6 separate regions of the Homo sapiens genome follow, and regions 1, 2, 3, 5 and 6 are each reported to be linked to region 4. The links are microRNA targets in miRTarBase. Many come from high-throughput screens and were not tested one by one. Region 4 holds a microRNA gene; each other region holds the end of a gene's coding sequence.
The links. Region 4 holds the annotated microRNA hsa-miR-939-5p (UGGGGAGCUGAGGCUCUGGGGGUG, at 3,221-3,244, opposite strand). A microRNA usually pairs through its seed, bases 2 to 8, with sites in the 3' UTR of a target mRNA and lowers its output. Matches are read on the target gene's strand: a 7mer-m8 pairs with bases 2 to 8, a 7mer-A1 pairs with bases 2 to 7 and ends in A, and an 8mer does both.

Region 1: the mRNA of DUSP14 is a reported target of hsa-miR-939-5p. Seed matches in the 3' UTR shown: 7mer-m8 at 989-995.
Region 2: miRTarBase lists LIMD2 as a target of hsa-miR-939-5p. Seed matches in the 3' UTR shown: 7mer-A1 at 4,002-4,008, 7mer-m8 at 3,958-3,964 and 7mer-A1 at 3,857-3,863.
Region 3: miRTarBase lists GTPBP4 as a target of hsa-miR-939-5p. Seed matches in the 3' UTR shown: 7mer-A1 at 2,715-2,721 and 7mer-A1 at 3,264-3,270.
Region 5: the mRNA of ZNF561 is a reported target of hsa-miR-939-5p. Seed matches in the 3' UTR shown: 7mer-A1 at 2,141-2,147.
Region 6: miRTarBase lists MSI1 as a target of hsa-miR-939-5p. Seed matches in the 3' UTR shown: 7mer-m8 at 3,468-3,474, 7mer-A1 at 3,621-3,627 and 7mer-m8 at 4,024-4,030.

The regions. Positions count from the first base shown.
Region 1 is chr17:37,511,926-37,516,995 of GRCh38, forward strand. DUSP14 (dual specificity phosphatase 14) reads left to right here. Exons shown (of 3, transcript NM_007026.4): 3 at 256-1,573. The coding sequence starts at 348. The coding sequence ends at 944. It overlaps SYNRG (synergin gamma), which reads right to left. Exons shown (of 22, transcript NM_007247.6): 22 at 2,882-5,070. Among named protein-coding and RNA genes, the nearest start is that of DUSP14, 25 kb to the left of the region's middle. RefSeq lists a silencer at 583-973 and an enhancer at 732-1,245.
Region 2 is chr17:63,694,297-63,699,366 of GRCh38, forward strand. LIMD2 (LIM domain containing 2) reads right to left here. Exons shown (of 5, transcript NM_030576.4): 2 at 4,961-5,052; 3 at 4,732-4,773; 4 at 4,503-4,642; 5 at 1,592-4,415. The coding sequence starts at 5,002. The coding sequence ends at 4,256. It overlaps MAP3K3 (mitogen-activated protein kinase kinase kinase 3), which reads left to right. Exons shown (of 16, transcript NM_002401.5): 16 at 1-2,009. Among named protein-coding and RNA genes, the nearest start is that of LIMD2, 3.3 kb to the right of the region's middle. RefSeq lists enhancers at 59-946, 1,008-1,077, 1,168-1,227, 1,268-1,367, 3,438-3,747 and silencers at 248-347, 4,708-4,937, 5,028-5,070.
Region 3 is chr10:1,016,502-1,021,571 of GRCh38, forward strand. It overlaps GTPBP4 (GTP binding protein 4), which reads left to right. Exons shown (of 17, transcript NM_012341.3): 17 at 574-3,431. The coding sequence ends at 726. IDI2 (isopentenyl-diphosphate delta isomerase 2) reads right to left here. Exons shown (of 5, transcript NM_033261.3): 4 at 4,266-4,396; 5 at 2,409-3,333. The coding sequence ends at 3,016. Among named protein-coding and RNA genes, the nearest start is that of IDI2-AS1, 3.6 kb to the right of the region's middle.
Region 4 is chr8:144,390,973-144,396,042 of GRCh38, forward strand. MIR939 (microRNA 939) reads right to left here and starts at 3,258; the gene lies at 3,177-3,258. ADCK5 (aarF domain containing kinase 5) reads left to right here. Exons shown (of 15, transcript NM_174922.5): 5 at 1-84; 6 at 162-302; 7 at 389-502; 8 at 608-739; 9 at 811-894; 10 at 969-1,050; 11 at 1,120-1,198; 12 at 1,282-1,373; 13 at 1,473-1,725; 14 at 1,804-1,920; 15 at 1,997-2,270. The coding sequence ends at 2,102. It overlaps CPSF1 (cleavage and polyadenylation specific factor 1), which reads right to left. Exons shown (of 38, transcript NM_013291.3): 27 at 4,463-4,579; 28 at 4,293-4,383; 29 at 4,126-4,210; 30 at 3,910-4,051; 31 at 3,672-3,824; 32 at 3,407-3,583; 33 at 3,262-3,328; 34 at 3,141-3,188; 35 at 2,911-3,066; 36 at 2,695-2,824; 37 at 2,480-2,618; 38 at 2,259-2,393. The coding sequence ends at 2,346. RefSeq lists silencers at 3,209-3,370, 4,723-4,936.
Region 5 is chr19:9,606,119-9,611,188 of GRCh38, forward strand. ZNF561 (zinc finger protein 561) reads right to left here. Exons shown (of 6, transcript NM_152289.3): 6 at 1,211-5,070. The coding sequence ends at 4,082. Among named protein-coding and RNA genes, the nearest start is that of ZNF561, 13 kb to the right of the region's middle.
Region 6 is chr12:120,341,340-120,346,409 of GRCh38, reverse strand. It overlaps MSI1 (musashi RNA binding protein 1), which reads left to right. Exons shown (of 15, transcript NM_002442.4): 13 at 88-275; 14 at 778-840; 15 at 3,305-5,070. The coding sequence ends at 819. Among named protein-coding and RNA genes, the nearest start is that of PLA2G1B, 16 kb to the right of the region's middle.

The sequences.
Region 1 (5,070 bases), not on the chromosome of region 4:
CCCCCCACCCCACTTTTTTTTTTTTTTTTTTGGACAATCACCAGAGAGCTGAATTTTACATTGATTTCACATGTTTGTGTCTTAGGTGACTTTTCCCAACTGTTAATTGATAGAAAATGATTTGTCTGTATCCTTGAAAGATTGTACTGTATTATTTAAAAAAAAACCCTCTAATCTTCCCATTTGACAAATGTGACAGAAGGCTGTGATGAATCAGTAGCATTTAAAGTACTGACACATACCTGTATTTTGCAGGAAGGAGACTCTAATTTTGGATTCCTTGGTGGAGGAAAATAAAACACTCTGGTCTTGCCGCCAACGATGCAAGTGTGACTGCTGGCGTCTTCATGAGCTCCAGAGGTCACAGCACGCTACCAAGGACTCTCATGGCCCCTCGGATGATTTCCGAGGGAGACATAGGAGGCATTGCTCAAATCACCTCCTCTCTATTCCTGGGCAGAGGCAGTGTGGCCTCCAATCGGCACCTCCTCCAGGCTCGTGGCATCACCTGCATTGTTAATGCTACCATTGAGATCCCTAATTTCAACTGGCCCCAATTTGAGTATGTTAAAGTGCCTCTGGCTGACATGCCGCATGCCCCCATTGGACTGTACTTTGACACCGTGGCTGACAAGATCCACAGTGTGAGCAGGAAGCACGGGGCCACCTTGGTGCACTGTGCTGCAGGGGTGAGCCGCTCAGCCACGCTGTGTATCGCGTACCTGATGAAATTCCACAACGTGTGCCTGCTGGAGGCGTACAACTGGGTGAAAGCCCGGCGACCTGTCATCAGGCCCAACGTAGGCTTCTGGAGGCAACTGATAGACTACGAGCGCCAGCTCTTTGGGAAGTCGACAGTTAAAATGGTACAGACACCTTATGGCATAGTTCCCGACGTCTATGAGAAGGAGTCCCGACACCTGATGCCTTACTGGGGGATTTAGTGCCACTGAAGCCTGCGTCAGCAGCCCGAGCGGGGCCGGCATCTGCTCCCCGCCGTCTGCTCCCTCTCCACTCTCTTCTCAAATGGCTGACTTCTGGTTCTCCCTCAAGTGTTTTTTACACTGGGTGTTCAAATTTATTTTAAGAGATAGGGAGGGAGGGGACATAAAGGGAATGCATACATTGCTAGTCACATTTTTAAAATTAACATTTTGGAATAGTGTTTATGGAAATCTTTAGCTTTTAATCATTTTTACCAATTTGAACAGTTTAATAAACTGGTTCTGCTCTCTTCTGAATCTCATGCCTTTGGCACCTTGGTAGGTGCAGGAGGAGCTCAGTGCAAAAATCACTTTGGGGCCTCATTAACCCTTTAGAGACAAGCTTTGCCCCAGGCTGCGGACCAGACAGATGCTTAGGGAAGGTTGATAACCAGCTTCAGTCTCTACTGGATTAGCCCTACTCTTTCCTTTCCCCTCCATTATTTAGTGACTCTGTAAGTAAGTTAAATACACCCTTATTATTTAGCTGTTAAGTAACTATAATGAAATCTGCTGCAAAATCTCTCTTGGAATCCATGTGCCCAGGATTATATTAGCATTATTTTTAATAAATCTATATGCTTAACATATTAGAATTTTTACTAATAATTTCAAGGTGTGTGTGTGTCGATGATGGGAAAAAGGTGCTCTCCAGTAACTAACTAACTAACTGCTGAAATGTGGCTCCTGTGCCAGTTGGGAACATTACTTAAAATACACATCCCAGCAGAGTCTTGTCGGCGCGTCACATCCTGGTGGACAGGCAGACACACCGTCCCCGGTGCTGGGCCGGTGGGAGATGATTGATAGTGCACGCTCTGATCAGGGGTGCTGGTTTTGGTTTCCTCTTGGTTAGTGGAGCGCCCCGAAGCAGCGTGTCCTCCATCAGAGAAACTGGTTTTCAATAAAAGGTGCCTCTGCTTGACTATTATTACCACATACGAAAATGCCCTAAACCAAACCTCAGTATGAGCGATAAGCAAGTAACAAAAACAAACAATGGCTGCCTTTGTTTAACTTTGGGACTGTCTGTCACCCAGTTCACTGCTCCTGATAAAACGGGCAGCACCGCTCATCATCATCAGATACATGGTAGAAGGTGAATGAGCTCGCCCCTGTCCCACTCCTGGGACACTCCTGGGCACTTTCCACGTGCCCCCAAGTAACCACTGTCCTAGGGCATGCCTTTCTTCTGCATGGAGGGCATCCTGGGCGTCTGCCCGTGCAATGGGAACCCGCTGCGGCACTGCTCTTTGGCTTCATTTATCAGGAAGGTTGTAGCTTGCTCACCAGAGGAATAGTTTTCTAGATTTTTTGGGTCAGTTTTGGCAGGAAGCCATACATAGGCCAGTAGCTACATATTTAGACAAATATACTCCACATTTTACCTGGTTTGTGGCAATGGTTTTTTCCCATCTAAATTCTACCTTTTATTGCTTTATACCCGTGGCTGCCCACTGTTATAAACATGCATCATTATTCTCTAGAAAAACTAAAATGAAAAAAATTATTAATAGTTTCTATGGGAAATCAGAGGAAACAACAAATGCTATAAGATCAAAAAAAAAAAAAAAAAAAAAAAATCCAGGGAGGCTCTGGCTGCTTTAGTAGGAGGCTCAGCTTTGAGTCTGGGAGTTTCTGAATAAGAGCACCCAAATAACCATTGTCCTAGGGCGAGAAGACACCTGGTGACAGATGTTCTTGGTAATTAATGAAAATTACCTGTAGAATTCCTGGCAAGCAGCACTACGGGGCTGTAACTAAGAGTTCCTCGCACGTGGGAAGCTGAACACCTTTGTAATCTTAAGCGCATGGGCCCCTGTTCATCCTAGTGACTTGCATCTATGTGAAATCAACCCAACAAAGACAAGACCAAGAAAAGGCTTAGTAGCCTGACATTCTTCTACACTTGTATTTTGGTTAGAGAAGTTTAACAAGGGGTGATTTCAGAACAGACCCTGAAAATATTTTAAAGGTAAAGCTTTATAATGTCTAAACACATCAATTAGAGCAGTTGTTTATTAAAATACAAACAAGGGAGAAACCACACCATCTTTTAAAATACAGGCGCGAATTCCACATCACGCAGAAGACAACGCATTTCGCTAAGGGCCACAGCATTCACTGGTTAATAAAGCCACAGCTACAAAGTAATGAGATGTCCCACATGAATACTTTTTAACCACTTACATTCACGTCAACATATAAATAATGGAATTAAGTAAAAACTTCATTATAATGCTATTTTGTTAGAAAAGTATTTGTAAAGTGGCATTTTTCCCCCAAGAGCTGTTTCACTTAAGCTTTATTTCCTCGGCCTGGCAAGGGGAGGGCTTTTCAGTATTGTTATTTGGTACACACTTACCTGAAGAAATAAGTAAGTAACTTAAACATAAAAAACATAGTCGACACACATCTTGCCCTGCATTCTGACATTTGCTGGAATGGTCTACAGCAGGCTACAATGCTCCCTTCTGAATGGCAAATGTCTGAAAATGTCAGTTTATTAACTGTTCACAAAGGCAGGCATTTGACCTTGAAGGTGTTAAAGGGAATTTTTTATTTTTGAGACAGAGTTTCGCTCTTGTTGCCCAGGCTGGAGTGCAGTGGCGCGATCTCGGCTCACTGCAACCTCCGCCTCTCTGGTTCAAGCAATTCTCCTGCCTCAGCCTCCCGAGTAGCTCGGATTACAGGCACCTGCCACCATGCCCAGCTAATTTTTGTATTTTTAGTAGAGACAGGGTCTCGCCATGTTGGCCAGGCTGGTCTTGAACTCCTGACCTCGGGTGATCCACCCGGCTCGGCCTCCCAAAGTGCTGGGGATTACAGGCGTGAGCCACCACGCCCGGCTAAAGGGAATTTTTGTAGTGGTCCCCAGTACAGGGCCAGCATTTCCTATTTCTGTAACATACAGCCCTATAATCTTTGCAAAGCTGAAGTACACTTGAAATAGGCAAACAGAAGACACCTTTAAACAAATAAGACCCCCCCAAAACCCTTCAAATATGTATATGTACACAAAATATTCAAATAATTAAAAATTCACAACCCCTATGGAATGCTAACTAGTAGCCACAGGAAAAATAAAGCATGGAAAATATCCTCATATATCCAGTACCTCTTCTATCTCAAGCATGTCCAGACAAAAATTAAATTACACACTAAGCCATAAAAATTTTAAAGGCAAAACATCCCACCAAAAAAAGAAAAGTGCTTATTAATGGCCATTCAAGCAGTGGGGTGAAGCGGGCTGACACAATGCACAGTATGGAAATAAGTAACCTTGGCTACAGTTTCCAAGGACACGGGGCTCCTGGCTGACAAGAAGAGCTGAGGTGAAGCTGAATGCAGCGTTGAGCCATTTTAATAAACGTTTATAAAGAAAAGCAGCGCAACCGTGTCCCACACTCCTTGGATCCCTATTGGTGGCATCTAATTAAACATTTCAAGTATTCAAGAGATATGAAAGGTAGTGAATACTTTTCATAGCAAAGGCTTTTTTTCTGTTGACATCTGCTGAATTTTCCTGTGGCACCTCCCAAGGAGTGACTAAGCCTACCATCCTTGGTAAGGAAAATGGGGATTATACTAAGGAATTTTATCTGAGGCATTCTGGAATTTCTCAGGAATAGAAACCAGCCCAGCTACCAAGTGAGCTTTTTAAAATGTTGATACTGGGCCACTGTGACATGACAGGCATCTATATAGCATTTCAAAAAAATGCTTCAGCAATACAAATTCAAACTGGGAAACTTTTTTTTTTTTTTTTTTAAGAGACAGTGTCTCGCTCTGTCATCACCTACGCTGTCACGTGCAGCCTCAAACTCCTGGACTTGTGATCTCCCGCCTCAGCTTACCTAGTAGCTGGGACCACGAATGTCCACAGATGCACTCCACCTACCCGGCTAATTATTTTTTGTATAATTAGCTGGGGTCTTTACCATCATGCCCAGGGCTGGTCTCTAACTCCTGGGAAACATTCTTATTGCAAAGGTAGATTCTGCTGTCATGGTTCTGTTATGAAATTTAGGCCAGGCGCAGTGGCTCACGCCTGTAATCCCGGTACTTTGGGAGGCTGAGGCGGGCG
Region 2 (5,070 bases), not on the chromosome of region 4:
CCCCTAGAGTCCCAGGTTGGCTCTGCCAGTCCTGTCCTTTACCAAAGATGAATGAAGCAAATGTCATGCTGCCTTATTCAGGGAAGGAGGAGCCTGTCCTGCCTGTGGCCATGACCCTGCCTCTCCCAGGCAGGGGCCCGCGATGTGGAACTGCTGCCACTGAGGGGGGATCCAGTTTTGTCAATGCAGTTGTCTCTGTTTTACAAGTTGGAGTCACTCTTATGCTGTACCCAGTTTCTAAACTGGAGACTGTGTGTGCCCTCTGGGCTCTGAGTACCCCTGCTTTGGGCTTGGGCCTAGGCTGCATTGAAAAGAGCTGAAGGTTGTGGCCTTTGCGCTCCTGGCCCAGCCTTTGTTCCCCACTGGAGCAGAAGGGGAGATGGACGACACGGTCGGGGCATCTGGCCTGGCCAGTGCCCTGATCCCAGAGAGCCCGAGGAGGTGTCTCAGGCTGCCTGAGTCGTGACCTGCTAGGCCAGAGCCCACTCCATCTGGTAGAAGGGAAAGCCCATATGCTACCACCAGCTGTGTCCAAAACCGCCAGCTCTGTTCTTCCTCAGCCAGCCTCGCCCATCCCCTTGAGGTCTCAGCCCCTTTCCCTTGTAGCTCCTCCCCTGGAGGGGGAATGGCAGCAGGGGTTGGGGAAACAGCATCTCCAAGCAGCTTAGAGTTGGCCATATTTACCTCAGCCTGGGCGCTGGTCCTTTCTTCCGGCCCCTCCCCTCCAAAATGTGCCTATTGCTAGAGCTCCTCCCTCTCAACACCCAGTTTCCTTGGGAGTTGTCATTAAAGGAAAAAAAAAAAAAAAAAAGCCAGTGCCCAGGGATGGGCATCTCCAGGGAGCTGGGGATTAGTGCCAGGCAGCCCTGCCAGCCATGCCTACATCCCCATGGGCACAGAACAAGCCAAAGCCTTCGTTGTATGTTGACGATGCACTTTTATGAATGTAGTTTCTATCGCTGTTTTTAGCCTTTTCACATCATGTAATGTGAGGCCTTGTACTTGTTAATTTATATCTCAGATCATATTTGATGGTTTTTATATATATCAATTCTAGACTGTTACAGGTGACGGACGCCTCAAGAGAGAGAAGAGAAAATGAAAGCAGCTGGTTTTGCAGAAGTGTGTGTCGCATGCGCCAGTTGGGCCTGGACCCTCCTGTGTCCATCCCTGTTCCCCCAGGGGCTCTATCAGCCCCTGTACCCCACACTGCCCTCTGAAGACAACACAGGCTCCTGCTTCCACCTCGGCCCTTGCCCAGGGTGGGGCCTGGCCCTCATCTTGACCAAAGCTGCTGTGTGGCAGCTCGGCCTCTCTACGACCCCATCTTGGTGGCTGCACACTCTTCCTGGCCCGCACCCCCATCCCCAGTCCCTGTTCCCCAAGAGGATACAGAGCACGGTGCTGGCTGACTCAACTGTGCGTCCCAGGTTCAGGGTCTTACAGAGCTCCACCCCCTGGGGTCTTACCTCACTGGGAATGTGTTTTGAAAATGAATTTGAAGACAAGCCAACAAACCCTGCACTCCAAAAAAGCAAAACAGACCCTAATTTTTTTGTGCCAAAAACTGTGGACATGCTGGCTCAGCATCCTCAGGACCAAGTTGTTGCTTAATTTATTGTTTTTTAATAACTAATCCAGATAAAAAGTTGTGGGGCTTCAGGGTGACCTGGGCCCAAAGGTTCTGAAGGGCAGTTCCTGGCAGCCCCAGGCTTGCTGTGGGAAGGGGCCGTGCCGTCACTTTCTCATCATTCCATGGGGTGTGTCTGCCTGGGCCAACTCTGCATGGAGAGGCCAGGGCTGGGGACAGTCCGCACTCTGCCACCCTCCTGCCCCTTCCACCCACCCCAGCTCTATGTCTGTGTCTGAATTGTGGATCGTGCAGCCATGGTTATTGTGGAACTGTGGAACCTGCAGCCATAGTTATTTGACTATATCTTGACCGAGGGCTTGCAGTGCAAAGCCAGGCCAGTGTTGCGCATTACTTACAATAAAAGGGATCATTTATATCAGAGGGGTCCTGTGGCAGTGCTTTCAGTTGTGGGGGGTGGAGGTAGGTTTTTGCTTAGCAGGGGCCAGGTATGGTGCCTGGCAACGAGCCTGGGCCTTTCAAGCAGAAGAGAACTTGACTCCAAGTAGAGGGGTCCTGGGGTGATCTGGCTGATACCATTGTCAGTCCAGAGGTGTCTGCCCCTTTCCTCCAGTTGCCCCTCCAGGAGCTCCACTGGGGTGGTCCCAACAGGGCTGATTTACCAGGGTGGCACTGCTGGCCCTCACAACCTGAACGTCACCAGTGGCTGAGTTCCCGGAGCTTTCATGATATTTGGTAGGGTCTTCCTGGCCCAGAGGACTTCCTTCAGTCCCATCTTTGCAGGGCAGGGGTCAGGTGTCTCCAAGAGCCACCTCTCCAGTACCCCCTTGTGGTCATCTGCTACTGTTGCTTAACCGAACCAAGATGATCCTTGCCATCTGAGACCTCTGGTGCAGGAAGTTGGCCTGCCCTGAGAGGCTCTGAGGCGCTCACTTCACACTTGGGAGGATCCAGGCCGGGGCACCATCTCTGCTGAGTATTCGCTCTGCTCCCTCGAGGAGCAGTGCCTGCCTCAGCATAGTGACTTATGTGACACTGGAGCCTGTGGCCCAGCTCCCTGCCCTGTTCCACGGGGAGGCCACTTAGGAACTCAGGCAGTTGTATGGTGTGGTGGCAGCAAACCCTCCAGGAGTCTCTGTTCTCATCGATCCCATGTCTGGAGACATCAGGAAGTTGAATCTGGAGCAGGACAACCCAGACTTCTGCCTGTGTCCCACCGGGGCGCCCTCAGGTCCTCCCAACTTGCCTGGTTTGCTCTGCTGTGAACTCATCCCTCATTGTCCCTGGGTTTTCAGAGAAGCAGAGGTAGTTTCTCTTTGGATTTCCTGAGACAGTAGCTGTGACTGCACCTCCGCAGAGCTTGAAAAGGCAAGGGGATGATGACAGCAGCGAGGGGTAATGATGAGGGGGGACAATCCAGGGGTCACTAAAACCTTGGGCAGCACTTGCTGGGTCTGCTGGTTACCGCCATTCTTCGCTAACTTACTTCCAGGTCAAAGGGCTGGGAAGAAGGGAGGGAGCTAGACAGCTGGAACCAGCCAGGGAACGCGGCAGCTTGCACCCCAGGCACTGAAGTGCAGCGAGGACAGGCGCCATCACCCACTGGCAGCCTGGCCCTCCCGCTCTCAGGCCTCTTCACAATGGGGTGCATATGGTAAGTTGGTGGGTCTGAACCAACCCAGAACTGAGGGGTGAGGTGGAGTTTCAGTTCCAAAACCACTGTGGGTGTGACAGCATGAAGCCCTCGCTGTGAAGAGGAGCCCTCCCATTTCTCAATGGTGTGTCAGGGAACTGACACCCACTTCTAGCTCCCTGCCCCCATCAGGGCCGAGGTAGTCGGGGCTGGCCCTGTCCCCCCATGCCCGCCCCATGGTGAGTCTGCACCCTTCCTGTGACAGATCCCCCAGCAGGCCACACAATAGAGAATCTGGATCTATTGAAACATGTTTAAAACGGGGTTGGTCACAACAGGATGGGCACAAATGGGAGCGGGGGAGGGGAGTGGGGCCGCACCAGCCCCTGCCAGTGCCTGAGGCTGCAGCCTGGCGAGTGCTTTTGCTTCTGCTTCTCCACGCTGGTGGTTCGAGATGGTCCCAAGCCCCACTGGGGCAGGCCCTGCCTTGCCCTGCAGAGGCAGGGTGGCTCCACTTCCCCATCTCCTCCCCCATGGGCTGCAGGGGCATTTATGATGCCCAACAGGTGGCACTGTCGCGCTCCTTCCTCCCTGTCTCCGTGGCTCAGAAACAGGTTAAGGGTAGAGGTAGATGGGGAGACGTGGGGGCCACACAGTCTCCGGTGGCAGTGAGGGAGCTTGGGACCCTGAGGGGGGCATGCTGACTCCTTGCTGGAGAAAAGGCACCTAGATAGGGGAGCTGGGCTTGGGGGCCTCCCAGGGGGTCCTGGGGTGAGGTGGGGAGGGAGGCTGAACGAAGCAGGAAGCAGGGTGGTGGGCAGACCCCAATCCTGGTTTCCAAACCCTCACCGGCTGCGGGAGAAGGAAGAAGGAAGGAGTCCTGGAGCAGAGCCCTGCCCTGGTCCCCTACGCCTGAGCAAGCCTCATCCCCTTCCCACCTGGCCCCCACGCAAGCCCAGCTCGACCTCCTTCCCACCTTCCCCCTGCCGGCTCCAGGCCTTCCGCAGAGGGGGTGGAAGGTTACAGAGGCCTCAGGCCGTCTTGGTGCCGGGGTCCACCTCCTTGTGGGCCCAGAGCTCCTTGTGCTGCTTGCGGCCAAACCCCTCGTCGTAGTTGCCTTTGCTCTTAAACAGCTGCTGGAAGTGGGGTTTGCAGTAGAACTCCCCGTGCAGCGCGGCGTAGCTGCCCAGGCTGCAGAAGCCAAACAACGGCGTCAGGTCAGGTCAGGTCGGGGCTGGGTTGGCAGGCGAGGCGGGGGCGGGCAGGGCAGGGGCGCACCTGAGCTTGGTGTGACAGTGCTTGCAGCAGAAGCAAGAGTTGTGGAAAATGAGCTTGTCGGCCACCAGCCGCTCCATGGGGTACACGGTCTTCTGGCAGGCGGCGCAGGTCTCCTTCACCTGGGCCCGCAGGCTGAAGGACTGTGCGGGAAGCTCAGCCAGGTGCTGCCCCAGTGCTCATCCCGCTCCCTCACACCCCTCCTCCCGCACACCCGGCCCCAGGCCCCTACCTTGGAGCGCTGCACCGTGCTGCTGCCGCCGCCTTTGGCGTCCTGAGGGAGAGGGGCGGTCAGGGCAGGGGCAGCTCCGGGAGGCCCTGGATCAGGGCTGCAGCCATCAGCCCAAGGCCCAGGGGCGCGCCGCAGGGCACAAAGGGGGCCGGCAAACTCTGATGCCTCTCCCCTTCACCCCAGGCCAGGCTCCTGTCCGGGGGGCCCTCCCACCCAGCCGGGCACTTACATGAGAGGGGGTGGCCTGGGCGGCTCCTGCAGCCTGGAACATGGCTCGTTGGAGGTGGAAGCCTCGGGTGGAGAAGCGGCACCCGCTGGGTTCTGCAAGGGGAAGTCAGT
Region 3 (5,070 bases), not on the chromosome of region 4:
CATGGAAGCCTGAGCTTCACTCCTCTGTGCCATTGCCATCTTGAAACCTGGCTGTTAATATTGGCATTGCCACTTGTCAGTCAGACCTGAGGAAAACAGGTTCATGGGCCTGAGTCCTTAGCTTGTGTAAGAGGGAGTTAAAACAGATGTGTGCTAACCTTCTAGGTCTAAAGTGTATCTAGTCCTGGGTATAAAGCTTGTCCTGGGTATGATTTTCATCCAGTCTTTATACAAAAATACTCATTGAGTTCCTGCAGATAACTGTGCTGGGCTTAAGAGAAAAGAGATGTAACAGGGATAACTGTGCTGGGCTTAAGAGAAAAGAGATGTAACAGGGGTAACTGTGCTGGGCTTAAGAGAAAAGAGATGTAACAGGGGTAACTGTGCTGGGCTTAAGAGAAAAGAGATGTAACAGGGATAACTGTGCTGGGCTTAAGAGAAAAGAGATGTAACAGGGTCTCTTCGCTGAGCAGACCTGAGCCATTAAACAGATTGTTACCCAGTAGTTGAAATTCAGAATGGAAAATTGGTTTTAAGTAATGAACATACTTTATTTTTTTCTCCTCCTTTTAGATGGTGAAGAAAGCCAAGACTATGATGAAGAATGCTCAGAAGAAGATGAATCGGTTGGGGAAGAAAGGGGAGGCGGATAGACACGTGTTTGATATGAAGCCCAAGCACTTGCTGTCTGGGAAGAGGAAAGCTGGTAAAAAGGACAGGAGATAGTATCCGTTTGGTTGGCGTGGCTTCGCTAGAGTGTTGCTGTTTATTTCCTGGTTTGGCACAGTATGGTTTCATGAAATTGGAGCTCTGTATAAACTGAAAAAGACAAAATAAGTAAAGCACTTGTTGCTTTGCTGAAAACTATGGTTAACCCTATATAGGTGTGGGAAATTTTTGTCACTGCATAATATTACAAATATTTTGAGTAGACAGTGTTTCCACATTTAATGGAGTATCAGTTGCTTCAGATTTTCAGAACTGGGAAGATTTACTGGTTTAACTAGGTTGTTTTTGATGGAGAAAAACCTTATTTTCTTTTGTAAGAGCTGGGAGCAAACACGTTTATGAGTGTGTCGGAATCCCGTGCTTAAAATACGCTCTTAAATTATTTTCTAGTCTTATTTTACAATGTCTCATTGTAGTCTGTCTTCAACTATTTTATCCAAAATAAACCTCCAGAAGAAAGTAGTTTTCATTTACTTAGCTCATGTTTTGGTTTAGTTATAGTCGCTATGGATTTGGCCAAATAAAAAGGCAAACAACATGACATTTCTATTTTGTTTTAAAGCAAAAATACTTTTGGGGGAGTAAAATGTTGCTGGAGGCATTAGGCAATTAAATATGGGCATTCTCCTATTTCTGTGGCCCGTCCCTGAAGTTACATGTTCAGTAAAACACAAAAACACCGCCAATGCCACCTCAAAAGCACCTGCTGGGGAGCGTTGGGGTGAAGAGCTGTGGGGTCGGAGGGACCTGCCCAGGGGTCCGTGTGCTCCTGGAGCTCCAAAGACACACAGGGGTCCAAGAGCCACCACGGATAAGTTATCAAGTCACACAATCAACATTATAGCTGAGGAAAGGACTTTAGTTAATCACACTTCTGGATTACATGTGGCAATTTTAAAAATTTACCAGGGCTGGGCTGGGCGCAGGGGCTCAAGCCTGTAGTTCCAGCACTTTGGGAGGCCGAGGTGGGCAGATCAGGAGGTCAGGAGTTCGAGACCAGCCTGGCCAACATGGTGAAACCCCATCTCTACTAAAAATACAAAAATTAGCCATGCGTGGTGGTGGGCATCTGTAATCCTAGCTGCTCGGGAGGCTAAGGCAGGAGAATTGCTTGAGCCCAGAGGCGGAGGTTGCAGTGAGCCGAGATCGTGCCACTGCACTCCAGCCTGGGTGACAGAGAGAGACTCCGTGTGAAAAAAAAAAAAAAAATACCAGGTCTGGTTTTTGAAATTCTTTCTCCGTATTAAACACCAAAACTTAACATATAGTTTACTTTGTGTTAAACAACAACAGTATGGCCGGGCGCGGCAGCTCATGCCTGTAATCCCAGCACTTTGGGAGGCCGAGGCAGGCGGATCACGAGGTCAGGAGATCGAGACCATCCTGGCTAACACGGTGAAACCCCGTCTCTACTAAAAATACAAAAAATTAGCTGGGTGTGGTGGCGGGCGCCTGTAGTCCCAACTACTTGGGAGGCTGAGGCAGGAGAATGGCTTGAACCCGGGAGGCGGAGCTTGCAGTGAGCCAAGATCGCACCACTGCACTCCAGCCTGGTCGACAGCGAGACTCCATCTCAAAAAAAAAAAAAAAATACCAGGTCTGGTTTTTGAAATTCTTTCTCCGTATTAAACACCAAAACTTAACATATAGTTTACTTTGTGTTAAACAACAACAGTATGTTTTAAAGCAAGTATGTCTTTATTTGTAAGCATATTACTGAAACGATCAAATGAACAGAAGTGGATAAACGTCGAGTCACTTGGCTGAGACCATACGCATCTTCCGTACTGCTTGTATTAGGATGCAAGATTGAATGTGTCTTTTTTTTAAAAATGCAGCCTTGTGTTGCACTCTGAAATAAGTGATTTAAAAAGAAAAACATGATACAGAGATCCCATCCTGACCTTGGAGGCTTGGATAAAGCTGTGGGGAGACAGCCTCATGGTCCAGCCAGGCTAGTCCGCCTGCTTCAGGACTCTCAAGATCTCCCCAAGACTTTCAGGATCAGCTGCTGTTAATCAAACAAGTGCTTATAAAATGGAAATTGGGACAAAGGAAATGTTAAATTTCCTCCCTGCAACCAGGCAGATGAGAAATATGGAAATAAGGAAAAGGGAAAATGAAGATATGACAAAGTTGATGAAAAGGTTGAAATAGTGATTTATACATGATGGGCAATCAAGTGCCCCTTTTGCCCTGTTTTTTGGAGAGGGTGTATCATTGCCTCAATGGTGCGTCTGCCTGCACTGAGGGCATTACACATGGCTGACTCGACCTCCCTGCCTCTCACACTCTGTGTATTTTGTGAAGCTCCACAAACGGGGTCACGTCATCCAGGTGAGGCCACCACCGGTACAGAAACCTCTCGGCAATGGTTCTTAGCCAGGGGGTGACTTTGACTTCACCCCTCGCCTCCCTCTCCAGCAGCTCCCACAGCTCCTCCTGGGACAGGTAGAGGATGCTTTTCGTTTCACTGGGATCCGGGTTCAGAGTGACGTTTTTCCTCACAAGCAGAAGGTAACAAATTTCATGCTCTCCCCAAATTCTGTCTGATTTTGCCTTGTGGTGATAGATTGTCATGAACACAATGTCCTCTGGAGAAATCTATTGACAGAAATTGGTGCAGTGTTAACAACGCTAATGTAAAACACAGAATTTACAGAAAAATAGAGAAAATAAACACATTTGTTTTCCTCAGAAAATGAACACTTTCTTTGGTAATTGATAATTTCCAAAACCTCGATTTTAGCTAAGTAAATTTTTGTGGACTCAAGTCTGAATGATAAACCGGCTTTGGTTTCTTGGTTCCAGTAAACCTGTCTGTCTTCATTTAAAGAACTAACCGTGTCACACACACATCCTCAACAGAAAACCCCGTAGAAACCGGCTAGCGTTGTCAGGAGAACATCCATCCTCTCTTAAACGTGTTCTTGAGTGGATGAAGGTAACACATGCTCACAGGATCCTGGACATTCTTTCTACACTTGAATTTCTTTCTTTTTTTTTTTTTTGAGATGGAGTCTCGCTCTGTCGCCAGGCTGGAGTGCAGTGGCACAATCCCGGCTCACTGCAACCTCTGACTCCCAAGTAGCTGGGATTACAGGCGTGTGCCACTACGCCCAGCTAATTTTTGTACTTTTAATAGAGACGGGGTTTCACCATGTTGGCCAGGATGGTCTTGATTTCTTGACCTTGTGATCCGCCCGCCTCGGCCTCCCAAAGTGATGGGATTACAGGCGTGAGCCACCACGCCCGGCTTGAATTTCCTCTTCGGTGTGTGGTCGACAGATTCCTGCACAGTCTCAACCCTGCCTGGGACACATAGGGACTCACACTGCCCCATCCACAGCTACATTCACAGCCCCATTCACAGCCCCATTCACAGCTCATTCACAGCCCCATCCACAGCCCCATCCTTCATCCTCATGGTGCTTCATGAGGTCAATGGTGTAGATCCAGCCTGGACTTTGTTCACCGTCTGCCCGCTGCCAACCTGGACTCCCGTGGACACAGCTGAGACTGGATGCTGTGTGTACCTGCTCCCCAGGAATTCCCAGCTCTGCTTGCAGACGCCTCTGGGCTGCCCTCCTCACTCCGATGGCATCCTTTTCTTCCAGTTCTGCTGGGTTGTATAATGGGTGGCTACTACAGGAGTCGGTAAAATACCCTGGAAAAAATGCATGTGGGAACATCCCTCTTTATTCCTGAAAAGTGAATATATTAAATACAAATGCAGATGCTTCATGTAAAACCATCATCCGTCATCAGCAGAAGACAGCCTGGCGGGGGGAGTGGGTTTGTCATGGGCTCTCAGAGCAGCACTCGCCTCCAGCCTCCACGGCTGTGGGCTTGGTGAGGGTCTTCCACATGACCACCTGGCGGGGCTGGCCCTGACCGCTCCTGCGGCCCTTCCTGCAGATGTGCACACACATGTCCCGTGGCACTATCCCAGTATGTCTTAGGAGAGGGACTGGTTCCTACTCAGTTTTGTACCCACAGAGGACCTGAGATGCCATGGGGTGGCGGGAGGAGGTGGTGGGGCTGTGGGCTGGGTGGCTGCACCAGCTGGGCTGAGGAAGCTGGGCTGCACTTTGAGGGTGGTGATCAGTGAGCATGGTTTCACAGGAAGACTGCTGGAATACCTTTGACCAAGTTTCCTTACTGAGAGGTTCTACTTAATTTACCCAAGTAACAGCAATAGCGCTATGACGGGAGGTCACACTCTCCTCAGTAAATCTCTGTTCCCTCTCGTTCCTCAGACCCTCAGTGCTTCCTTCGGTCACTCTGCAAGGAGTTTGGCTGAAGTTGAATCCACTCTTGCAAGTACAAGAGCTGGTACTC
Region 4 (5,070 bases):
TCCTTCAACCACCTGCTTCCCCCCGAGTATACCCGGACCCTGCGCGTGCTAGAGGACAGGGCCCTCAAGCGGGGCTTCCAGGAGGTGAGTGTGCGCTCAGGCCGAGGGAGGTGGGGCCTCCAGCAGTGGCCCCAGGCTGCTCTGAGCACCTGTCCTTCCAGGTGGATGAGTTGTTCCTTGAGGACTTCCAGGCCCTCCCCCACGAGCTCTTCCAGGAGTTTGACTACCAGCCAATTGCTGCCGCCAGCCTGGCACAGGTGCACAGAGCCAAGCTGCACGATGGCACCAGCGTGGCTGTGAAGGTATATGGGGGCTGCCTTGTTCAGCAGTGGGCTGGGGCGGGGCACAGTGGGGCCCCAAGTTCTCACCACACCCTCGCCCAGTGCAGGTGCAGTACATCGACCTGCGGGACCGCTTTGATGGGGACATCCACACCCTGGAGCTCCTGCTGCGGCTCGTTGAGGTCATGCACCCCAGCTTTGGCTTCAGCTGGGTCCTCCAGGTACAGCCCCACCCCTTCCCCGGCCAGCAGGAGCAAACACGTAGGCAGAGCTGGTAGGAGCAGCTGGTAGGCAGAGCTGGTCTTCAACCGCCATCTGGCCCCCAGGACCTGAAGGGGACCCTGGCCCAGGAGCTGGACTTCGAGAATGAGGGCCGCAACGCAGAGCGCTGTGCGCGGGAGCTGGCGCACTTCCCCTACGTCGTGGTGCCCCGCGTGCACTGGGACAAGTCCAGCAAGGTGGGCTGGGCCAGGCCCTTGGGGTGGGCACAGCGCTGGGCCTGCTGAGCCCAGCCTCTTGCTCTCCCCAGCGCGTGCTCACTGCCGACTTCTGCGCCGGCTGCAAGGTCAACGATGTGGAGGCCATCAGGAGCCAGGGGCTGGCAGTGCATGACGTGAGTGCGGGGGGGCGGGGGCGGGTCAGGGCGGGCTGGTGCTGTGTCCACTGCAATGCCTCTCCTCTCCCCAGATAGCAGAAAAGCTCATCAAGGCCTTTGCTGAGCAGATATTTTACACCGGCTTCATCCACTCGGACCCACATCCTGGCAACGGTAGGAATTTACCCCAGGGGTGGGGGTCTCAGGGTGGGCGCAGCGCGACCTAAGAGGCTGTATCCCTAGTTCTGGTGCGGAAAGGCCCGGACGGGAAAGCGGAGCTGGTGCTGCTGGACCACGGGCTCTACCAGTTCCTGGAGGAGAAGTGAGCGCGGGTGGGTGGGCGTGGGGCAGGGCAAGCCTCTCCTGCCGCAGGGAGCTCATGGCTGCGGGCCCATCCACACCCAGGGACCGCGCAGCCCTCTGCCAGCTGTGGCGGGCCATCATCCTGCGGGACGACGCCGCCATGAGGGCGCACGCAGCCGCACTGGGGGTGCAAGGTGAGGGCGTGCGGGGATGGCTGGGGCACCACAGAAGGGAGTCGGGCGGCGCGGAACCCACTCAGAGCCCCCTCCCTCCCTCCCTCCCTCCCTCCCCAGACTACCTCCTGTTCGCCGAGATGCTCATGCAGCGCCCCGTGCGCCTGGGGCAGCTGTGGGGCTCGCACCTACTGAGCCGCGAAGAGGCGGCCTACATGGTGGACATGGCCCGCGAGCGCTTCGAGGCCGTCATGGCGGTGCTCAGGGAGCTGCCGCGGCCCATGCTGCTGGTGCTGCGCAACATCAACACCGTGCGCGCTATCAACGTGGCCCTCGGCGCCCCCGTGGACCGCTACTTCCTTATGGCTAAAAGGTCGGTGGCCCGAGGAGGCGCCCGGGCCGTGGTGGGGCTGGTGTGGGGCTGACGCGGCGCTAACGCGGGTGTGTGCAGGGCTGTCCGGGGCTGGAGCCGCCTGGCGGGCGCCACGTATCGGGGTGTCTACGGCACCAGCCTCCTGCGCCACGCCAAGGTCGTCTGGGAGATGCTCAAGTTTGAAGTGGCGCTCAGGTGAGTGGCCGCGGGGCAGGTGGGTGGCGGGGGCCTGCTCCCCACCCACCTGTGACCTGTGACCTGACCCACGCAGGCTGGAGACCTTGGCCATGCGGCTGACCGCCCTCCTGGCTCGTGCTCTGGTCCACCTGAGCCTCGTGCCCCCAGCGGAGGAGCTCTACCAGTACCTGGAGACCTAGGGTGCAGCCGCCCAGGGCCGGCGGGGCCCTTTTCACCTTGGGCTGACGGAGGTGGCGGGGCTAGAGGTGTAGACACCCCGAGCCCCGTGGGCACTCGCACTGGGGGGCTGTGACAGCAGCTGGGCCAGGAGGCCGTGTAATGACCACACACTCCTCTCAAGCAAAAAATGTTTTTCCTTGTGTTTTGTACAAAAAGGGGGTGGGAGGTAGTTCCGTGTGCTGGTGGTGACGGCATCCACGGGGCTAGAAGTGGGCGGTGACGCGGTCCGTCTCCAGCAAGTCGTCCAGGATCTGCAGGGGATGGAAGGGTGGGTGGGTGGGTGGGTGGGGATGCACACGGAGGGGCGGGGCGCGCGGGGGGCGGGGCGCGCACTCACTATGTCTGGTGTGGTGCCGATCTTCTTGGCTAGCTCGCTGCGCTCCATGGTGCTCAGGTACAGGTAGCGGTTGAGCAGCTCCCCATCCAGCACGTTGCGCACGGCATTCTGGAGGGTGCGGCGGTCCACGTGCAGCATCCTGGGGCGTACAGGCACAGGTGTCAGGGCAGGCTGGGGTGGAGGGGGTGCTGCACGGGGGCGGGGCCGGGGCTCACCGGAAGGCGCGGGGGTTGAGGCCGGCGTGGTGTGGCAGCATGGTGGTCAGCGCGTTCTGCAGCATCAGCAGCCGCCGGTAGGTCTTCTCCTGCATGGGCAGCAGCAGCCCGATGCCGCCGTCCAGGGTGGCTGGCAGGGGTAGGGTGAGGGTTTTGGTGTGAGCCAGGCCAACCCTAGGGCCCCCCACCCAGACACACCTGCTCCCCCACACTCACCAAACCACGTGATGTGCTTATTCTCCCACACGACCGACTTTTTGCTGAGCCCTTCAGTGGCCCCCCGGCACGGGGTCCTCCAGAACGTGTTCACGTGGGCACCCACGTGGAAGTCTGCCCGACGCAGCAGGCGCATGCCCCCGAAACTCTCCTTGGCTAGACCAGAAAGGCCTAGGGGTCACTGCTAGCCCAGCCCCGGCCCAGGCAGAGGGGGTGGAGGAAGCACTCACCTTCGGGCAGGTACATGTACACCATGAGGTTGCGGTCGCGGTCAGACACTGGGGAGCAGAGGCCCAGGGTCAGCCCCGGCCACCCCCAGAGCCTCAGCTCCCCAGGGCCCTGCCCACATACCCAGAAAACCCAGCTGGGCATTGTCCACCATGAAGTCCACGCTGTACACCTCCAGGGGCTTGGCATCCTGGGGGCGGGAAGGGGGCGTCAGAGGTGCCTTGGGCGGGTACCCACCCAGACACGAGCACCGCCGCCACAGGTGTACCCGCGACACCAGGCTCAGCGTCTTGCTTTCCTCCTGGTAGCGCAGCAGCGAAATGCTCTTCATGACGTCGGCTGCCAGGATGAAGTTCTTGACGCTGATCATCTGGTGTATGTAGAGCTGCGTGTCGATGAAGGCCATGCCCGTCAGCTCGCTGGCCCGCAGGCTCCACAGGAAAATCTGGGGGCGAGGGCGAGGGTGAGCGGGCGCGGACGGGGAGCCGGGTGAGGGTGAGCCGGGGGACACACGCCGGGTGGGACTGGCACACCTTCTGGCCGATGGCCGACACCAGGTGGCCATTGCAGTGGCACAGGGCGGTCACGGGCCCCTTCTGCTCCTTCTCGTAAAGGACTTTGAACTTGTTCTTGGTCAAGGGCTGGCCAGGCTCGGGCACCACCTCAATCACATCCATGATCAAGATCTGGAGGGCATGGGTATGGCTGTGGGATGGCTGTGGGGATGGCAGAGGGGCTGCCAGTTCCCGCCCCCGCTCACTGGCCCCTTACCCGCCCTCGGCACGTGACCTCCTCCCCCTGCATGAGGCAGGTCCCGGCGGCCACGTAGCCTTTGAGGCCCGACACGGTCTCCTCACTGCGCAGAGACACTGTCTTCATGCAGGTCACATGCTCCCACTCCTGCAGCTCGATCCTGTGGGGGCCAGGGGCCTCAGGATGCTGCCTGGAGGCCTTGGGCAGACCCCACCCCCGCCGGCCCAGCCTCACCTGGCATTGGGAATAGCCTCCCAGCTGACCGGGGAGATGAGCTGGATGGAGAAGGCCTCCTGCTGGGGGTGGATGTACCGCTCATCTGTGGGGACCAAGGGTGACAGTCAGAGTAGGGCTTCCCCAAGATGCGGCTGAGGATGGGAGTATGGTGTGGGCGTCACCACCTCTCTCGATGGTCTCAAACTCCTTCTCCTCGCCAGTCATGCGTGGGATGCGGGCACACGGCGTGTTGGTGCTGGTGGCCACAGCATACACCTGTGGGTTAGTGAGGGTCACACACCAGTGGCCCGGCCAGGCCCAGAAGGTCCCTGGTGGGGTGGGGGTGGGGGCAGACCTTAGACTCCACGTGGTAAGCCACATAGTGGGCCGTGCAGCGCAGCGGGATCTTCCTGACAGGCCATGGGGCATCATAGGACAGGTAGGCAGGCAGGACACTGATCCTCAGCTCGCCCTGGGGTGGGGGCACAGGGGTCAGGGGATCCAGGGCTAGCCAAGGGCAGGGGCAGGCAGGCCCAGGCCGCCAAGAGCCCTGGGATGTTGCCCTCAGCTCTGTGGGAGCAGGGGTGGGTGAGGGGCAGCTGTGTCCTGGCGAGGTCCTGGAAGGGGCTGCCACTCAGCCTCTGGGGCTCCTCCTGTCCATTTTCCCACGCTCAGCTGGGGCTAGGGGTGCTGGCCACAGGGGATGGGAAAGCTAGGCCAGGAGGGCACTGGAGGCTGCAAAGGGCAGCCCACAGACTGCCATGCTGGGGACTGAAAACCAGGCAGAGGGAGCCAGGGCTGCCCTCTTTCATGGACAGTCCTGAGTCCTCAGGCACCCAGGAAGCACTCACCGCATCCCAGGCAGGGTCTCAAGTGACCTGGTGGTGTGGTGGCTTAAATAGGGAACCAGGATGAGAAAGCCTGTGTGCCCTCCCAAAGTCACAGAGCAGCCAAGGGGCAGAG
Region 5 (5,070 bases), not on the chromosome of region 4:
CTCCCAAAGTGCTGGGATTACAGGTGTGAGCCACCATGCCCAGCACGTAGTATTTTTCAGTAGAGATGTAGTCTCACTATGATGTCCAAGGTGGCCTTGAACTCCTGGGCTCAACTGATCTTTTTGCCTAAGCCTTCCAAAGTGCTGGGATTACAGGCCTGAGCCACTATTCCCAGCCTAGATTCTTATAGCATATAGATGGATAAAGAATTTAGAAAAAGTAGGAACATTCCCCAATACAGTATATGACAGTCATAATTTACATGTAAATATCATTCAGGGCCGGGTGCAGTGGCACACACCTGTAATCCCAGCACTTTGGGAGGCCAAGGCAGTTGGATCACGAGGTCAAGACATCAAAACCATCCTGGCCAAAATGGTGAAACTCCATCTCTACTAAAAATACAAAAATTAGCTGGGCGTGGTGGTGCATGCCTGTAGTCCCAGCTCCTTGGAGGCTGAGGCAGGAGAATCGCTTGAACCGGGGAGGTGGAGGTTGCAGTGAGCCTAGATCGTGCCACTGCACTCCAGCCTGGACACAGAGCCAGACTCTGTCTCAAAAAAAAAAAAAAAATCATTCAGGGACAAGAAGAAAAAAAAATTGCAGTTATTCAAACATAGCTCCATAACATATTAGTAAAGGTAATCAAATAGTCTTTTAAAATGATCCATTATGTCTCAGTTGGGCTTATCCAGGAATGCAAGGTTGATGTAACACTAGAAATGTAATAAATACAAAAACACATTTATTTTATTTTATTTCTGATGGAGTCTCACTCTGTCACCAAGGCTGGAGTGCAGTGGCACAATCTACACTTAATGCAACCTCCACCTCCCAGGTTCAAGCGATTCTCCTGCTTCAGCCTCCTGCGTAGCTGGAATTCCAGGTGCACACAACCACACCCAGCTAATTTCTGTATTTTTAGTAGAGATGGGGCTTCACCATGTTGGCCAGGCTGGTCTCGAACTCCTGACCTCAAGTGATCTGCCCATCCCTGCCTCCCAAAGTGCTGGTATTACAGGCATGAGCCACCACACCCAACCTGACCACATTTATTTTAGAGATGAGTCCTTCCATGCATTCATTCATTCGTTTTGTTTTTTGTTTTTTGAGATGTGGTCTTGCTATGTTGTCTAAGCTGGTCTAGAACCCCTGGGTTCAGGCCATCCTCCCAAGTAGCTAGAACTATAGACATGCATCACCACATCATTTCATTGAAGTATTTATTACATACCATCATTGGCCAGGAACAGTTCTAGGTACTTGAGTTCTAGCAGTAAATAAACATGATCATCACAGAGGATGCACAGGAAGCATTTAATAAATTCAAGAGGAATTCAGCCTCATGAATTATGAAATACTGGGAAATCATTCATCATGTAAAAACTGGATATAAAAAGAAACCTTTCCTGTAAGAGATTAGCCTCTTCAAAAAATAAAATAAAAACCTACAGCCAAGCCAATAAAATAGAGCACGTATCTCAGCAGAACTGCAGACAATTATGCTGGTATTACTGCTATTCATTGGTGGTGTGCTGGAGGTTGAAATTAGTCCAGTAAAGCAAGAAAATATATATATAGGTATAACCTAACGACTAAAGTGGAAAAGTAAGAGTCATTATTTACAGATTATGTGATTGTCTATGTGGAAACGGAAAAGAATCATATTAAGTACTTTGGACTGAATGATAACCCTGAAAATTCATATGTTGAAGCTCCAAATCCCAATGTGACTGTATGTGAAAATAGGGTTTTTTAGTTTTGTTTTTGAGACAGAGTCTCGCTCTGTTGTCCAGGCTGGAATGCAGTGGCTGCGATCTCGGCTCACTGCAACCTGTGCCTCCCAGGTTCATGCCATTCTCCTGCCTCAGCCTCCCGAGTAGCTGGGACTGCAGGTACCCGCCACCACGCCAGGCTAATTTTTTGTATTTGTAGTAGAGACAGGGTTTCACCGTGTTAACTAGGACAGTCTCGATCTCCTGACCTCGTGATCCGCCCACCTCGGCCTCCCAAAGTGCTGGGATTACAGGTGTGAGCCACCGCGCCCGGCCTGAAAATAGGCTCTTTAGAAGTATCGTGAAATGATGTCAAGAGATGGGTAGGGGGAGGGAGGGGGAGGGAGGGGAAGGAGAGAGATGGTGGGGAGAGAGAGAGAAAGAGGAGAGAGGAGAGAGGAGAAAGGAGAGAGGAGAGAGAGACCTATTTGTTGGTTTCCTTCCTGTGAAGACATGAGGAAGTGGGCATTTACATACCAGGAAGAGAGCTCTCGCCAGAAGTTGACCATGCTGGCACTCTGATCTCAGACTTCCAGCCTCGAGAAATGTGAGAATATAAATTTGTTTTTAACCTCATTTATTTAAAATTAACAAATTTGTAAGCCATTTGGTCTGTGGTATTTTGTGATAGTGGCCTGAGCTCATTAAGGCAGATTAAAAACAAACAAACAAAAAAACTAAAAATGTGAAGCAGATTTGAAACTGACAAATGAGGCTGGAAAAATTCTGATGTGCAAGCTGGAAGTAAGGTTGGTAAGGGTGATCCTGGTGAGGTGTCATTGGGGAATGAGGAACATGCTATTGGGAAATAAAGAAAATACAACCCTTGATACGAAGTAGTGAAGAACTTGGCAGAACTGTATTCTAGCACTTTGCGGAAGGTAGAGCTTGAGAGAGATAAAACTGGTTATGTATCACTAAGATCTGTACTTAAAGTGTTAAAGGACACAGGAAGCTTCATTCTTCCTGAGTGCTTACAGGAAAATGTGCTCAGAACAGGCCCCCCAAATTTGGACATAAACAGGCCATGAGAAACTGCCCATAAACAAAATCTCTGCGGCACTGTGACATGCTCGTGATGGCTATGACACCCATGCTGGAGGTTGCTGGTTTACCCGAATGAGGGCAAGGAACACCTGGCCCACCCACGGTGGAAAACTGGAAAACTGCTCAGGCATTCCTAAACCACAAACAATACCATGAGTGATTTGTGCCTTAAGGACATGTTCCTGTTGCAGATAACAAGCCAGAGCCTGTCCCTTTCTTTCTTGTAAGGAATACTTTTAGCTAATCTATAATCTATAGAAATAATGTTTATCACAGGCTTACTGTCAATAAATATGTGGGTCAAACTCTGTTCAAGGCTCTCAGCTCTGAAGGCTGTGAGCCCCGATTCCCACTCTGCACTCTATTTCTGTGTCTTTGTCTTAATTCCTCTAGAGCTGCTGGGTCAGGGTCTCCATGACCCAGCTGGTCTCAGCAAAAATGCAAAAGGAGACCTGAATTGCAGAAAAAATTGTTAAGGAAAAAGGAACCAGAACTTGGAGATTTGGAAAATTCTCAGCCTATCCATAATGCAAAAATTAGAAAACTTGTACTGAAGAGAATCCTCAAAGTGTGGCTGAACGATCATCTGATAAAGAGATCATGAGTGGGATTCATGGACTATATCAGCCACCTTGACAGAAGTGAGAAGAGAGACTGGATTATACTAGAAGAGACATTGCCACTTACATTGTGCCATCTAAAATAGACATACAAGGCAGAACAGGCAAGGCTGTCACACTTCTTAGATTTTACAAGGGGACACAGAAATAATCAGCTGTGAAAGGGCACTGGCAGTTATGGATGGTTTCATTCCTGACACGCTCTGCAGGATCCGTGGGATCAGAAGAGACCCTTGGAGGAGCATCTCTTAACAACCCACCTTTGGGGTCCTACATCATCTTGGCTTCTGGTAAATTTTGACATAAATGTGCCACACTGGCAGCCACTAACCAACAGGGGCTGGGGTCAATCTGCATGATTTATCTCATACACAACTTGTTAATGCTATGATCTTAGGAATCTAATCACCAAGGTGAGGCAGCCTGCAGTACTGACCTCACCATCCATGACCCTTCTTCACAGATGCCCAGACTCAGGCAACCATGATGTTGTATTCAGAACCTGTAGGTTTAATTTCAGACCCTCAGGATGGTATCTAAGGCCAATCCATGAGTCATTACAACCTCCAAAAGGCATTTAGGACAAATCTGATAATCTTTGGTGTCATTGCCAATAATTAAAGATGGCAACCGATGGGCTAAATGGTAACACTCATATCCTTGCATTCATAGGGTTTCTCCCCAGTGTGAATTCTTTCATGTCTACTTAGGCGTGAGGAAACAGCAAATGCTTTCCCACATTCTTTACATACGAAGGGTTTCTCTCCGGTATGAGTTCGCAGGTGAACATTAAGGCGTGAGGAATATAGAAATGCTTTCCCACATATCTTGCATACAAAGGGCTTTTCTCCACTATGAGTTTTCAAATGTTTACTACGACGGGAAGAAGTAATGAAGGTCTTCCCACATTCAACACATTCATAAGGCTTCTCTCCTGTGTGAATTCTTGTATGCTGAATAAGACTTGTGGATGTAGTGAAGGCTTTCCCACATTCCTTACACTGATAGGGTTTCTTTCCACTGTGACTTCGTATGTGTATAGAAAGGCCCGAGTACTGAGCAAAGGCTTGGCCACATTCCTTACATTCATAGGGTTTTATTCCAGTGTGAGTTCTTACATGTTCAGTAAGTTGAGTTGATCTAGTGAAGGCTTTCCCACAGTAAGTACACTTGTGTGGTTTTATTCCAGTGTGAATTTGAATGTGATCATTAAGGCATGAGGAATTTCTAAAGGATCTTCCACATTCTTTACATTCAAAGGACTTCTCTCCTTTATGAGTTTTCACAGGTGCATAAAGTTGAGAAAAATTAGTGAAGGATTTCCCACATTTCTTAGTCTTTTTGGATTTCTTTCCTGTATGAACTGCTACACACTGCTTTAGGTGTGAAGAAGCTGTGACAGCTCTCCCATATTCCTGAAATTCACAGAGTTTCTCATCAGTGTGGATTCCCATATGATTATCAAGGCTTGCAAAATACTTAAAGCCTTTTCCACATTCCTTACATTTGTAGGGTTGTCTTGCATTGAGAACTTCAAGATGTACAGCAAGACCTGGAGTTAGAGTAAAGACTTTTCCACATGGATTAAATTTGGAAAGTTCCTGTCCAGTAGAGGCTTCCTTGTGCA
Region 6 (5,070 bases), not on the chromosome of region 4:
GTTAGGGTGGGTGGGACAGGCTTGAGGGGGTGCCGTGGGGTGGCAGAGGGCACCAGGGCTATCACCGTCTTCTTTCTGGGTTGCCAGGCTCTCACCCCTGGACGATGGCTCCCCCTCCAGGTTCGACTCCCAGCCGCACAGGGGGCTTCCTGGGGACCACCAGCCCCGGCCCCATGGCCGAGCTCTACGGGGCGGCCAACCAGGACTCGGGGGTCAGCAGTTACATCAGCGCCGCCAGCCCTGCCCCCAGCACCGGCTTCGGCCACAGTCTTGGGGTGAGTGGCCAGGCCTAGCGGCCCCCACCTCACCCCCCACACCTTGAGAGACCCCCAAGTTGGGGAAGGGAGAGAACTTCTTTGTCTCTGGGGGCAAAAGGAGGGTGAGGGAGGATGAATGGAGAAAGATCACTAAGGAAGAGTTGTGGGGGTTATCATTCATTCAGTGGGCACTTAGTTATCGCCTCTGAATGCCAGGCATAGTGGGCTCTAGGTGCAAATGAGACACATGGCATCTCTGCTCACATGGAGGTTTGATTCCAGGGGTGCCCTGGTTTTATCCAGGGTACGGTTTGTGCAGATTCCCTGGCCCTCTGTTGGAGAATCTTTGAGCAGACCTGCAGTGGGGGGTGATCCGGGTAGGCAGACCTGCAGTAGGGGGGCGATCCGGACAGGTAGAGAGAGGTCAGCGCCTCACTTCAGATGTCCTGCAGAGAGAGAAGGAGCCCCTGATCTTCCTCTATTTCCCAGGAATCTAGGAGTCAAATTCTTTCCTTTTCAGGGCCCTTTGATTGCCACAGCCTTCACCAATGGGTACCACTGAAGCAGGGGACGGTGGCAGGAGGTGAGGATGTGGGGGTGGGCAGGTGGTGGGGTGGCACTGGGGAAGCCTGTCCTGGGCCATCGAATCTGGGACACAGACCCCATCCCTGCCCTCAAGAACCACAGTCCCAGGGGAGACAGATCTTTATACCAGCTGTGGTCAATAAAGATGAAAAGCTGCTCACCCTACTCCATTTAAACACAGAAATCAAAGCAACAGTAAGGCTTCACATCCCACCTATCAGGTTGGCAAAGATTATTATTATTATTATTTTTGAGACAAGATATCGTTCTGTCACCCACACCTCCTGGGCTCAAGGGATCCTCCCACCTCAGACTCCTCCCGAGTAGCTGGGACTGCAAGCACCTGCCACCATGCCTGGCTAATTTTTTTACTTTTTTTGTAGAGACAGGGTTTCACTGTGTTGCCCAGGCTGGTCTCAAACTCCTGGGCTCAAGGGATCCTCCTGCCCTGGTCCCCCAAAGTGCTGGGATTACAGGTGTGAGCCACCAGCGCAGGCCACAAAGATTTTTTAAGATCGTTTATTATTATTACTATTATTTTATTTTATTTTTGTAGATGGAGTCTCGCTCTGTCACCCAGGCTGGAGTGCAGTGGCGCAATCTTGGCTCACTGCAAACTCGTCCCCTGGGTTCAAGCAATTCTCGTGTCTCAGCCTCCCGAGTAGCTGGGATTACAGGCATGTGCTACCGCACCCAGCTAATTTTGGTATTTTTTTTGTTTTTAGCAGAGACGAGTTTTGCCATGTTGGCCAGGCTGGTCTCAAACTCCTGGCCTCAAGTGATCCATCTGCCTCGGCCTCCCAAAGTGCTGGGATTACAGGGGTGAGCCACCGTGCCCAGCCCTATTATTATTATTTTTAATAGAGATGTGGTCTCACTGCCACCCAGGCTGGAGTGCAGTGTGCAATCACAGCTCGCTGCAGCCTGGAACTCCTAGGCTCAAGCCATCCTCCACCTCAGCCTCCCAAGTAGCGGGGACCACAAGAGCATGCCACCATGCCTGGCTAAGTTTTTAAAAAATTTTTTTGTAGAGATGGGGTCTCATTATGTGGCCCAGGTTGGTCTTGAACTCCTGGCTCAAACGATCTTCCTCTGCCTTGGCCTCCCAAAGTGCTGGGATTTCAGGCATGAGCCACCGGGCCCAGCCACAAAGATTTTTTAAGTTGAACACTGCCCAGCATTGATCAAGATATGGGAGAAGCAAGTAAGTACAGTGGCTCAGGGGTTCCCGGGGCAGTCTGGCAGTGTTTGTCCCAGTTTCAAACATTCATGCCCTTGGACCCAACAATTCCACTTCTAGGCATTTATTTTTAAAACTGCAAATAACTGAAATATCCATCAAAAGGAAAGTGGTTAAACAAATTAGTGTGTGTACAGTGGTATAGTACACAGCTATCAAAACAGGATACCTTGGCCGGGCGCAGTGGCTCACGCCTATAATCCCAGCACTTTGCGGGGCCAAGGCAGGCGGATCACCTGAGGTCAGGAGTTCTAGACCAGCCTGGACAACATGGTAAAACCCCATCTCTACTAAAAATACAAAACTTGGCTGGCGTGATGGTGCGCACTTGTAATCTCAGCTACTCGGGAGGCTGAGGGACAAGAATCGCTTGAACCCAGAAAGCGAAGGCTGCAGTGAGCCGAGATCAGGCCACTGCACTCCAGCCTGGGCAACAGAGCAAGACTCCACCTCAACAAACAAAAAACAACAGGATACCTCGACTTGTGGGACTGTGTACACGGCCATCACAGTGTCTATCCAGATGGTGGGAGACTGTGAGCCCATGACATTCTGTTCATTCACCCATTCATTTATGAGCCCCATTCCAGGAAAGAGGATGAACAAGACAGACAAAGTCCTCTCTCATTTCACAGGACAAAAATCAAGTGAACATATGAGATAATTCCAGACTGTGCATGACAGGGCTATTTTAGATGTGGGGTTTAGAGAAGGTATCTCTGAGAAGGGGACATTTAAATAAATCCAGCCATTCGAAATCTGGGGAAAGAGGCATCCAACCAGGGAACAGAAAGTGCAAAGTCTGGCTGGGTGTGGTGGCTCACATTCGTAATCCCAGATCTTTGGGAGGCCAAGGCAGGAGGATGGCTTGAGGACAAGAGTTTGAGACTAGCCTGGGCAATATAGTGAATCCCCATCTCTGCTACAACAACAAAAATGAGCAGAGTGTGTTTGCTTTCACCTGTAGTCCCAGATACTACCTGTAATCCCAGAGTCTCAGGAGGCTGAGGCAGGAGGATCACTTGAGCCTAGGGAGGTTGAGGCTGCAGTGAACTATGATCGCTGTCACTGCACTCCAGCCTGGGCAACAGAGCTGGACTCTGTCTCTAAAAAAATAAGAAGAAGAAAGTAGGTAGTTTACGAACAAAGCTCTTCTGGGAGAGAACTGGGGAGGGCTGCGTGTGCTCCGGGAGCCCCCATAACCTCCTGGCTGTGTTCCCAGCGCCCCAGCCTGCAGCTGACTGAGGACCACGAGTGAGCCAGCGAGGGGGCGGGAGACCTCAGCCGCAGCCGCCGCCCCCTCCCCTGCAGCGACTCGGACCCGCTACTGCCTGCCCCCAACTCCCCGGGCCCGGCCCCTGCCCTGCTGCCCCCAACAGCGTCTGGCTCCCCTACTAACGTCCCCCTCTTCGCCCTTGCCCCCATCCCCACCCGCCCCTCTCCCGGCCCTGCTTTTATTTATTTTGGATTAGCCGGTTGCCCACCCCAGCCCTCTGGTCCATCCCTCCCTCCGTGCCGCGCCCCCCTAGGACCGCCCCCTCCCCAAAAGGCTTTTGGATTTGTGCATAGCTGGAGTGAAGGCGGAGGGAGCCTGCTACAGGCCGCAGCCCAACCCCTGTTTTTTATTCAGATTTCCCCTCCTTTACCCTTTCCCTTTTTTTTTTTTTTTTTTTTTTTAAAGAAACCTTTTTTAAACTATTTCTAGGTTTGTGAATGTGAAGCCCCAGGCCGCAGGGGGCAAGGGGCCAGGTGCCCCCCACCAGCTGAGAACAAAGTGTCTATCTGGGTGTGGGCCCCTGGCCGCCTCCCTCCAGCCCTGGAGAGGAGGGCAGGGCTGCGGGGAGGCCAGGCCGAGCCCCTGGAACCATCCCGTCCTGTATCATATGTAAATACTGTGAGGTGATGTGCCCACCCCTCTCTAAGACCCCTCGGGGGTGAGGGGCTCCCCCCTCCCCTGTTTCTGTCCCCTCAGACACCGTTACTGTAAGCTTGCAGGCCTCAGCTGTGGCCACGGCAGGCCCGCTCTCTCAGGCCCTCAGGGTCAAGGCCTTGGTTGGACCTGCCCACTCCAAAAACCCAGTGTGGGGGCAAAGGGCGTGGGAAGAGCAGGGCTTGCCCAGCGACACTGCTGGACAGGAATTAACTCTCCAAAGGTCTCCCCTGCTCCCTACCTAGGTTGGGGCTTCATGGTTTCTGCTCAGTCTGTCCCCCTTCCCCCTCGACCCCCGCAATGAGTGGGCACCAGGGGACGCTCTGGCGAGGGCAGACCCCAGGGGAAAGCAAAGGGCGTCTCAGGGAACCCCCACATTCTCTCACTGAAGTTTCCCACCAGGATGACCCCACAGCCAGAGTCCCTTGGCAGCCCCTCACCCCAGACCCCCCTTCTAAGGAAAAAGAGAGGTTCAGAGCGTTGGACCTTCATGAACAGTGGCCTGGCTGGCGTGGCAGGGCCAAGGCCCACCCACTGCCATCCCCCTTCTGTGTGTCCCTCTCCCCCAGTTATGAGGCCCAGGGCCTGAGCTCTCTTCCCCAGCATTGCCCCCACCCGGAAACCCCACCTTTGGAGAGTTAATTGTCTGTGTGAGGTGCTTAACCTATCAGCCCTGAGAACACAAAGCAATAATCTTTGTTACTGAGATGCGCGGCTGTTCGTGTTTTGGGTTTTTTTTTTTTTTAATGTTTCCTAATAAAAGAGAAGCTGCATTTTATTGGTTTTTATTTTTAATTTTCTACACGTTTGAGCTGAGTCCTGAGACACTTAGCTTCCCTCTCCCTCATTCCCGGACCCTTCCACCCCACTGGGCCCAACCATGGGCTCAGGACCCTGGAATTCCGTTTTCTGATTTGCTTTGGGATTTTTTTTTTTTTTAAGATGTTACATGGTGTTTCGAAGCCAGCAAGTTACCATCCTCCGGTGTCTCTTCTCTCCACATCTGTAACTTCTTTTTCCAGGTTTTATTTTCAGTTTTAAATTCCTAATAAATTATT